4 separate regions of the Homo sapiens genome follow, and regions 1, 3 and 4 are each linked to region 2. The links come from fine-mapping of genetic effects on gene expression. A gene starts in region 2. Each other region holds a variant in brackets. All regions are shown on one strand. Distances are between the middles of the regions. Region 1 has its middle 29 kb from the start of CDO1. Region 2 holds the start of CDO1 (cysteine dioxygenase type 1). Region 3 overlaps LOC102467217 (a long non-coding RNA gene). Region 4 has its middle 91 kb from the start of CDO1.

Region 1 (2,692 bases), 29 kb after region 2:
GTGAAAATGTTCTGAAATTGACTGTGGCCATGGTTGCATCTATATGAATATAATAAAAACCATTGAGTTGTACACTTCAAGTAAGTGGGTTATATGGTATGTTTCTCTCTCAATAAAGCTGCTAAAAACTATGCTATTCTGAAAAAAAGAATAATATTGCTAATGATATTGCGTAAGAACAAAGATTAAAATAGCTAAGCCTGTATAACCAATAAAAGGCAAGCAATATTACTAAGTCTTATACAACAGGCAAAATTATATATAAAGTGCCCCAATTTATTATAAACTGTATATATATGGCTATATATATAAAACACATAAAAATCAATCTCTACTAAAACTTAAATTTGAGCTAAATATACAGTTGCAGGTTAGCAAATAATAAAACAGAATGCCCAGTTAAGTTTTACTTCTAGTTGCCTATATATATACATTTAGAGAAATGAAAAATATTACATAAGACATACTTTACTATAAAAAGTATTTCTTGTTTATCTGAAATAAATAATAACCATCAAAATTACATATCCATTTTTAAAATTTTATCACCCTAATGGCTCTCCTTAACAGCTCTTTGTTTTCCAGAATTTACTTATAAAACTCCTTGTGGTTATAATCTATACTCCATTTCCATTTTAACACGTCATCTACAGTGGTCCCATCCAACTAGTTTTATTCTTTTGTGCATTTAACATTTACCAATGACAAAACATGCTCATTACGAGCTGGTATTCTAGGCATGTACTGGCCTAAAATTAAAATCCCAGTAAGTACTCTTGGAATTTAATTTGTTGAAGAACATACCATCTTTGGTGACATAACTTGCTTTTCTATTCTTAAGGATTATATTGCATCTTGATCAATGACTTTTAAAATGTTGTCCAATGTCAAAAAAGAGCATTGCTATGAATTTTTATTCCCTTCCTCTTCAACAATACATATGATGATTCCTCTTGTTTCCATGTCGAAAGTGTATTTAATAATATCTCTATAAAAGAATCAAATTCTTCAAGGGATGGTATCAATTTCAAAACATAGTTATAATAAGTGCCATAATAATGAATTAATCCAAGTTGGAATTTCTTTTCTTGTTCAAAGTAATGTTGCCACTTTTAAAAACAAGTTTTGTAGCTACTTAGGAGGCTGAGGCAGGCAGATGGCTTGAGCTCCCAGGAGGCAGAGGTTGCAGTGAGCTGTGATTGCACCACTGCACTGTAGCCTGGGTGACGGAGCAAGGCCATGTCTCAAGAAAAGTAAATAAATAAAAACAAAATAAAATTAAAACAACTTTGATAATTAAAGGAATAAATTTTTCAAGTCATTCTCTAA[G/T]GCATTTAATAATTTCCTTAAACAACTACTTCAAAAATGTTCTTCTTTTAATTTGCATAATCCTCTTGCTAAAGTAATTGCAAAATATGAAAAAGAAATAAGTAGCCTTTACTTAATAAACTTTTTAAGTACTCAACAAGAATTTGGGGGGGGGTCTTTCCTTCAGAATTAAAGTATGATTTCATATGAGGATTCTCCCAAATACATTCGTTAAAGAGACCAATAAGTTTTGAATCTGATAGAATGGAAAAACGCTGCTTATAAGTATAGTAAGTCCTCACTTTAGGTCCTCCATAGGTTCTTAGAAACTGTGACTAAGTGGAATTGCATATAATGAAACTAATTCACCATAGGCTGATTGGTGTAAACAAGAGTAAAGTTTCTATGGCATGTTTCTGGTCACAAAAACATCATCAAAGTTCTGCATAAAGACCCAAAACACTTCTAATACTAAACATTGAAATAAATGTGAGCTATACATACTATTGGGAAAGATTAATACAAACAAGATAATTATTTACCCAATTGTTCCAGTTTAGAGTCAAGGGTGGCCGGAGCCTATCCCAGCAGCTCAGGGCATAGGTGGGAACCCACGCTGGCCAGGATGCCAACTCACTGCAGGGTGCTCTCACACACACTCCTACTGTGACAATTTAGACAACTTTTTTCATCAACGTTACAAGGGAATGATGTTGAACAAAACGATGTTATTTGAGGACATGCTGCATAAATGCTGAAGTAAGAGAAGAATTTCATAACAATTTTGTGACAATATCAGTAGAAGGAACATCATATGCTATTTGAACAGCATTATGCAGAATACAGGCAGGACAGTCAACATCTTCTATACAATCATTCATGCTTTGCTTCAACTTTGACTACACATTTTCTGTACCTGTATGCATACATTTACATGGTCCCCACCAAAAGCTATACAATTTATCTCATGAATTCCTAGTTCACTAATAAAGTCCACTAAAATTTTCCAATGTGCCTGAAGTCTCCTCTGGAAGATTTTACTCACAATAGTCTTATAAACAATCCTTTTTTACAGGAAAAATGCTGCACAAGAAATAAGAAATTTTTTTCTGATCGTGATTATTTTATTCACACTTGGCTATGCCACAAAAGGTGAGACATTAGATCTTTGATAATCTGTAGAGTAAATGCAGCTATTATATTTTTTATTATTGCTGTAGATTTTGTCCTGGCACTTAAATATTTGCTTGCAGTTTTGGAATCGAAAAATGCTCTGGTAGCAGTACCTTCAGATAGTCATTTGAGCTTTAAGATTGATGATGACATACACCAGGGAAAGCCATTACAGTTTCTGTTGCCCAGGCTGGTCTCAAATTCCTAGTTC
Region 2 (2,692 bases):
ATTAGACTAGCTGAAATGAAGTAATTAAGAGACTCAATAGAAAACATTGCCAAGAATAAAAAATAATTTGAGGAAACCATGAAAAGTTTACAGGTTACTCTGTCACAAAATACTTTGTTAATTCACTACCCCGCAGCAACACACATCACCAAGGCTGGCTTCTGGAATGCTTTCTACTTGTAGCCATTTTTGAACAATAGGTGATTCCGCTTTTAACAACACTGTTAGAATATAATGTAGCGAGTTTTACCAGAGATGTTTAAGACTACCTGGCACAAGTAAATTTCATTGTATACATGTATATACACGAGGGAGGGTGATCATAGTCTAGAAAAAAACAGGTCTTCAGAAGTCTAGAACTTTAATAACCTTAAATCCAAATTATTCCCTGCGTCCATCCATAATGAGAAGGAAGAAATCTACACTTGCATTTCTTCCACCTTTCACATCTTTCTCATTTAAATCCTACTGTACTTGATTTGTGTTGTTCCCAACGTACTAGGTGCTATGCATGACGTAGAAACGTGTTTCCTTATATGTATGTACTAGCAGGCTCCTTCAAGCACATGCCTAAGGTTGAAAGATTCAAATATAATTATAGCCTCTTAAATTATTGCGTCAGAGCCCGCCCTATCCCCTCAGAAAAAGCCCCCTTTTACACCATCAAATGAAATATCAGGTTATTTGCACTGGATATTTTTTAAAAGAAAATATTTGATTTTAAAATCAAAGAGTTCTTGGTTTTCCATCATTTCACTAATTGTCTTACTAGAGACCCGAGTCTCCTTTGTCAAAATATATTTCAGTACGCATTTTAAAAAATATGTGTGTGTGTATACTTAAATATATATATATATAAAGTCTTGGACTTATTTTCACCTAGCCTGGGGCATATCGTGGATAGTTTCAATCGACAAAACAGGCACTCTCTGGCCTAGGAGTGGAATCCATCCTCAATTTTCGCAGGCTCCTCACAATTCTCTATTTGGAAGAAGTGTCCCTCTCCTTCCCTTTTCTTTTCCTCCTTTACTCAGCGTCAGTCCCCGCAGCCATCTCCTCCGACCCTTTTTGTCTACGTCCCAGCGTCGCGAACCACAGCGGCGGAGGTGGAGCGGGGAGAGGCGTTAGGCCGGGCGGCTAAAACGCGCCGTTAAAGTGGGGGAGAGATTGCGCGGAGCCCACGCGATCCCTGGGACGCCGGAGACAACGGGGCTCTTGGGAAGGCGCGGAGCCCGGGGAAGCCGGGGATGTGCGCGTGAGCCGTGCCCGCAGGGTCTCCCCGCCTCCGCCACCTTTCTTGGGTGGCTCTCCGCCTCGTCCTCCCTCCGAGGGCCGTTGGTACATTCCTAGTGACTCCAAGCGCTTAAAAGGGGCCCGGGAGGATGAACCCCACAGATCTGAACCTGATTTGTGTGTGCACCGCGTCTCCAGCGATCCCGGATCCACTGCGCTGCCAGGGGCCTGGGGGTGGGTCTCTTGCTGTCTCTGCGACGACATCCTTACGTTTCGGCACTCTAATGCTGGGTTTGTGCGTGTGTGTCTGCTTAGCGGTCTAGCGGGCTGTTAGGCTCCCTCGCCCCCAGCTCCTTGGCTCGCTCAGCTCCTCCACCGCAGCCCAGCAGTGAGACGCGCGCGCAGCCAGCTCCCCACGAGATGGAACAGACCGAAGTGCTGAAGCCACGGACCCTGGCTGATCTGATCCGCATCCTGCACCAGCTCTTTGCCGGCGATGAGGTCAATGTAGAGGAGGTGCAGGCCATCATGGAAGCCTACGAGAGCGACCCCACCGAGTGGGCAATGTACGCCAAGTTCGACCAGTACAGGTGAGCGCGCTGCAGCTTCAATGCCAGGCGGCGCCCACTCGCCCCGTCTGAGGAGGAATGGACGTGGGGGACGCAGCCCAAAGTGACTGGCTCGGGAAGCTCGGGCCGCGCTGCGTCCGCCGCTCGCCCCCTCGCTGGCCAGCCGCGGGGCTGGCACGACTCGCTTGGGGCTCCGCGGCCACAGCGCAGGCGGAAGGTGGATCCTACTGGCCTTGCTGACCTCCGGCCGGGAACGGCGGACAGGCGCCGGGAAGGGAGGCCACCGCGCGTCTGCGAGATTTTCTGTTCTCTTCTCTCCCGCAAACCCCTCTGCTTCTAAACCACCAGTCCTCCTGCCCCTGGCCTCGGGAGCAATGCCCACACTCCCAAGCCATCGTTAACCCCGGGCGCGGAGATGCGGAGAGACCGCACTCAGGTTCGGGCCCTCCTGACACCTTAAGGAACCGTCTGGCCGGACTAGCAGAGGGTGCTCCCAGGGGAGCACTACATCAGCCATCGGGAGAAGTGTGTGATGTTGAAGAAGACAAGTCACCCGCGTCAGTTCTCCATCACTGCGCCTTCGGTCGCCTGCAACCGGGCACCTTATAGCAAGCATTTTTACTCATGTAAAATAGCGTCTTGTGGCCGTCAGCTGCCACTACGGAATTTCTGCTGTTCCCTTTCCCAAACCAATTTAACTAACTTCCCCGACTGTGGGTTTATTCAAATCCACTGCCAAGTTTCGCAGATTAAATATTCGACCGTCGTTTTTTTCAGCCCCCAAATGATCTGATTTATCTTATCCTTGCTTCTGACGATCTGTAATGTAAATTAAAGACCCCTACTTCCCAGATGTACTTGAGTGAGGTGCCCTGGTAAGCTGGCTTTTT
Region 3 (2,692 bases), 160 kb after region 2:
ATGACAAAAGTATCAAGATTCATTTTCTTTTCCAATTCATGTCATCTGCAAATAATGACGATTTTATTACTTCCATTCCAAACGCTATACCTTTTATTTTTTCTCTTGCCATATTGTACCCATGAATGTTTTTGTAGTGTTTTTTAAAATTTCAAAACATATGAGGGTTTCTAATCTCCTTTTAACGTTGGTTTCTAATTTTGCTGCACTCTTTTCGGAGAACAAGCTGTATAGCATCCATTCTTAGGAATTTATTAAGCCTTGTTTTGTAGCCTTGTACACTATACATTTTTGCAAATGTCACATGTTTGCTTGGTCTCCAGACCCATTCATTCTACCTGTAGAGAAAGATATAGAGAGATGTTGCTCATTTAAGGCATTTGCCGTATCTTGCAGGATAGCCCCCTAACCTTGAAGGTGCTTTCTTTTAGCTGGTGCCAAAATTGTGAGGTCAGCAGGCTATTCTGCTCTTCTGGTGATCCAGCTCCTTTTTGGAGATGGGCAAGACTAGTGAATTCCAGTGGTGTGAACGCATTGTCATACTTTCTTTGCAGTAGTATGAATCATTCCATGACTCAGGGGACAGGGTTGCATTCATTCCCCCTAAGTGTCTATATTTTAATATAATAAGCCTCATGAACTTGAGCATTTAATTAATGCTGCAACCCTTATAATCAGATCCTAAGCTTAGTTCTCAACTACCTCCTCCTGCAGTTATTGGAAATAAGATGTGCTTTTAAAGTTGCATTCAGGGCTCTCTGATTTTCCACATAAATTCTCATCTGGCAATTTCATTTCTCTTTGTCCCTACTTATTCTCCCTAGGGCCTTTAGAACAACCCAGATGACACTATAGTTCCTAAGATCTGTAGAACTCGTAGCAATCAAGTTTTACCGCTACTTGATTTCCCAAAACCTTGACCTCCTGTGTCATCACCAGTGACAGTTTGAGTAACTGTGATACTACTATATGTCAAGGATTGTCCATACCCCATTCCCCCTGTACTCTTCAAATATTGCACAATCCAGTCCAGGATTTTAAGGATTTTACTTTGTTTTCTGGGACCAGTCACAGTATCAATTACTGTGCCAATTAAGTTCCCAGTGGGAAAAAGATGGTGCAGTCAAATTGGGTAATTTGAAGGGACTATTTATAAAAGTGCAATCAGAGTAGGACAAACCATGAGAAATAGTGCAATACTCTGGGACTGTAAATAGTAGAATTTCCAAAAGGCAAAGAGAAGGAGCAATTATGGGAACCTAGTTTAGGAAGTCACATGATAGGAGATAAGATATTTGGGCAAGAGGTTCTGCTCCCAGGCCTAGGCAACCCTGGATGGAGGTAGCTAAGGGAACAAATACCTCTACCTTACTTTTTGCCCTCCCTCAGATTTTCTACCAGGAATCTTCAAACCCAAATCCAAATGCAAAGGAAATTTATACAACAAGAGAGTCTGTTGAGGTAGAATATACCCACAGGATACCCTCTCAGGACACACATAAGGATGGAAAGGAATGAAGAGTGGATCTAGAAGGGCAATCATAAAATATCAAG[C/T]AAAATATGAATTGGATCTTAATAATGTTAAAATTTGTGGTTCCTTAAAGATGTCCAAATGTAGATGCTGAGTAGTCATCAATGGCAAATAGACCATATTTAAAGCTGTGGGTGTAGAGGGCCTATAAACTGAGCCTCGTTGTGCATTAATATTGGGTTGAGGAAGATGGTCTTGCAAAGGAGACTGAGAAAAAGTAGCTGAGGAGTTGGGAAGAAAGTCAGAAAGGGTGGTATAACAAAAGACAAGGAAAAGGTGTTTCAAGACGATGAAAGTCTACAGTGCTCAACCCTCTGATAATCAAGTAGGATGAACAGTGAAAATGTTCATTACCTCTCCTCTGCCATATGTCATCCCTTACAGGACCATCCTTACACCTGAGCTAGAGGGGCCACTGCCCTGGGATCCACACAGTAGAGGGCTCTGCATATCATAAACACACACACACAATTCACTTATCAGTCACCCTTCAGGATCATTCTGGTCATAGGGAAATTCTTCTCCACCTCTCTTCCCCTATGTCCTTAAAACAAAAAGTCACTGTGTCCATAAACTTGAAGGTTTGTGGTTTGTACTGCTGCTGACATCAGAGAAACAAACAGCTTCAGAATGCAGGAAGATTTAAACAGTAGTAACAGTTTAAAAACAAAAGACAAATTAATTAACTTTTCACACTGTCCTCTTAGCAAGAATAAAATAGATTCTTTTATGTAGAAGTATTCTTTCCCAGTAAGGTCAAACAGCATCTATATTCTTCCTTTTCATTATCTTTCAATTCACAATTCCAGAGGTACCAGTGAAACGGGAAACTCACAAAGTTGCACTGAGCAAAGATCAACTGAGAAATATTTTGCAATATTAAACAATTCATAGTCTCTTAAAGTTGCAGGTATTTAGGCTTAAACTGTAACATCTCTTAATGATGGTTTATACTGGCAATTAGATAGACAGTAAATGCTAAAATGCAAATAGTTCTGATTTTATAATAATATTTGATGATAATTACATTTTCAAAAAACTAAATTAAAAATTTTACTTTAAGTGCTTTTGATCTACATTTTTGATATTAACTACACTGTACATTCTATTTTGCTTGAAATTCTAATACATAATTTTAAATATTTCAGAAGGAAACTTCTT
Region 4 (2,692 bases), 91 kb after region 2:
CTGGTTGTGGGATTTGCATGGAAGAAGAATTGGCCAGATGTGTGATTATATACTGATTCATGGGCTGTAGCCAATGGTTTGTCTGGATGGACAGGGACTTGGAAGAAGCATGATTGGAAAATTGGTGACAAAGAAATTTGGGGAAGAGTTATGTAGATGGACCTCTCTGAGTGGTCAAAAACTGTGAAGATATTTGTATCCCATGTGAGTGCTCACCAATGGATGACCTCAGCAGAGGAGGATTTTAATCAAGCGGATAGGGTGACCCATTCTGTGGACATCACTCAGCCTCTTTCCCCAGCCACACCTGTCATTGCCCAATGGGCCCATGAACAAAGTGGCCATGGTGGTAGGGATGGAGGTTATGCATGGGCTCAGCAGCTTGGACTTCCACTCACCAAGGCTGACCTGGCTACAGCCGCTGCTGAGTGCCCAATTTGCCAGCAGCAGAGACCAACACTGAGCCCTCAATATGGCACCATTCCTCGTGCTGCTACCTGGTAGCAGGTTGATTATATTGGACCTTTTCCATCATGGAAAGGGCAGAGGTTTGTCCTCACTGGAATAGACACTCTGGATATGGGTTTGCCTATCCTGCACTCAATGCTTATGCCAAGACTACCATCCATGGACTCATGGAATGCCTTATCCACCGTCATGGTATTCCACACAGCATTGCGTCTGGCAAGGCACTTACTTTACAGCTAAAGAAGTGCAGCAGTGGGCTCATGCTCCTGGAATTCACTGGTCTTACCATGTTCCCCATCACCCTGAAGCAGCTGGATTGATAGAACGGTGGAATGGCCTTTTGAAGTCACAATTACAATACCAACTGGGTGACAGTACTTTGCAGGGCTGGGGCAAAGTTCTCCAGAAGGCTGTGTATACTTTGAATTCGCATCCAATATATGGTACTGTTTCTCCCATAGCCAGGATTCACGGGTCCAGGAATCAAGGGGTGGAAGTGGAAGTGGCACCACTCACCATCACCTCTAGTGATCCACTAGGAAAATTTTTACTTCCTGTTCCCATGATATTACATTCTGCTGGCCTAGAGGTCTTAGTTCCAGAGGGAGGAACACTGCCACCAGGAGACACAACAACAATTCCATTAAACTGGAAATTAAGATTGCCACCTGGACACTTCGGGCTCCTCCTACCTTTAAGTCAACAGGCTAAGAGGGGAGTTACAGTGTTGGATGGGACAATTGATCTGGACTATCAAGATGAAATCAGTCTACTACTTCATAATGGAGGTAAGGAAGAATATGCATGGACTACAAGAGGTCCATTAGGGTGTCTCTTAGTATTACCATGCCCTGTGATTAAGGTCAATGGGAAACTACAACAGCCCAAACCAGGCAGGACTACAAATGACCCAGATCCTTCAGGAATGAAGATTTGA[G/T]TCACTCCACCAGAAAAAAAAAGCCATGACCTTCTGAGGTGCTTGCTGAAGACAAAGGGGATACAGAATGGGTAGTAGAAAGTAGTCATCAATATCAGCTATGATCACGTGACCAGCTGCAGAAATGAGGATTGGAATTGTGATGAATATTTTCCCCTTCTTTTGTTAAAAACATGTTTTTTCATGCATATGCTTGTACTCAGAAAATATCTTCATTTTATTTCCTTTCTCCTTTATCATGTAACATAAGATTTATTGACTTCACATCAGCATTTAAGTATTGTTAATTTAATGTAATAGTATTTGGGGCCGGGCACGGTGGCTCATGCCTATAATCCCAGCACTTTGGGAGGCCGAGGCAGGCAGATCACGAGGTCAGGAGATCGAGACCATCCTGGCTAACACGGTGAAACCTGGTCTGTAATAAAAATACAAAAAAATTAGCCGGGCGTGGTGGTGGGTGCCTGTAGTCCCAGCTACCTGGGAGGCTGAGGCAGGAGAATGGCGTGAACCTGGGAAGCAGAGCTTGCAGTGATCCGAGATTGTGCCACTGCACTCCAGCCTGGGCAACAGAGAGTGACTCTGTCTAAAGCAGATAGGTGCATTTCCAGTTGTACAAAGGATATTTGCATTATGTTAGGCATAATTATGACCTTATTATTGTCTTTATTTGAAGATTATATATGATTTCAGGAGATGTGTTCAAGTTGACAAGGGGTGGGCTTGTGATGGTTAATACTGAATGTCAATTTGATTGGAATGAAGGAAAAAAAGTATTGATCCTGGGTGTGTCTGTGAGGGTGTTGCCAAAGGAGGTTAATAATTGAGTCAGTGGGCTGGGAAAGGCAGACCCACCCTTAATCTGAGTGAGCACAATCTAACCAACTGCCAGCATGGCTAGAATAAAAAGCAGGCAGAAAAGTGTGAAAAGAGAGAGACTGGCCTAGCCTCTCAGCCTACATCTTTCTCCCATGCTGGATGCTTCCTACCCTCGAACACTGGACTCTGAGTTCTTCAGTTTGGGAACTTGGACTGGCTCTCCTTTCTCCTCAGCCTGCAGATGTCCTATTGTGGGACCTTGTGATCATGTGAGTTAATAAACTCCCCTTTATATGTATATATATCTATTCCATTAGTTCTGTCCCTCTAGAGAACCCTGACTAATACAAACACCTTCCCCAAAACAAAGAAAAAAACCCTTCAGTGGCTCCCATTTGCCTGCAAGACTAAATTCACAATGCTAATGAAGATATTTAAAGCTCTCTTTGTGATCCCAAGCTACCTTCA

What was found. PIP is the estimated chance that this variant, and not a neighbour inherited with it, causes the effect.
Region 1: its variant is the best candidate, but not a certain one, in a credible set for the expression of CDO1 in whole blood (INTERVAL, PIP 0.77).
Region 3: its variant is the best candidate, but not a certain one, in a credible set for the expression of CDO1 in sun-exposed skin (GTEx, PIP 0.60).
Region 4: its variant is the best candidate, but not a certain one, in a credible set for the expression of CDO1 in subcutaneous fat (TwinsUK, PIP 0.59).

The regions. Positions count from the first base shown.
Region 1 is chr5:115,786,119-115,788,810 of GRCh38, reverse strand. No RefSeq gene overlaps it. Among named protein-coding and RNA genes, the nearest start is that of CDO1, 29 kb to the left of the region's middle. The variant G/T (reference allele first, on the strand shown) is at 1,330.
Region 2 is chr5:115,815,359-115,818,050 of GRCh38, reverse strand. It overlaps CDO1 (cysteine dioxygenase type 1), which reads left to right and starts at 1,392. Exons shown (of 5, transcript NM_001801.3): 1 at 1,392-1,823. The coding sequence starts at 1,654. LOC124901049 (a long non-coding RNA gene) reads right to left here and starts at 963. Exons shown (of 2, transcript XR_007058908.1): 1 at 880-963.
Region 3 is chr5:115,655,882-115,658,573 of GRCh38, reverse strand. All of the region lies in intron 3 of LOC102467217 (a long non-coding RNA gene), which reads left to right. Among named protein-coding and RNA genes, the nearest start is that of TMED7-TICAM2, 31 kb to the right of the region's middle. The variant C/T (reference allele first, on the strand shown) is at 1,555.
Region 4 is chr5:115,724,536-115,727,227 of GRCh38, reverse strand. No RefSeq gene overlaps it. Among named protein-coding and RNA genes, the nearest start is that of CDO1, 91 kb to the left of the region's middle. The variant G/T (reference allele first, on the strand shown) is at 1,406.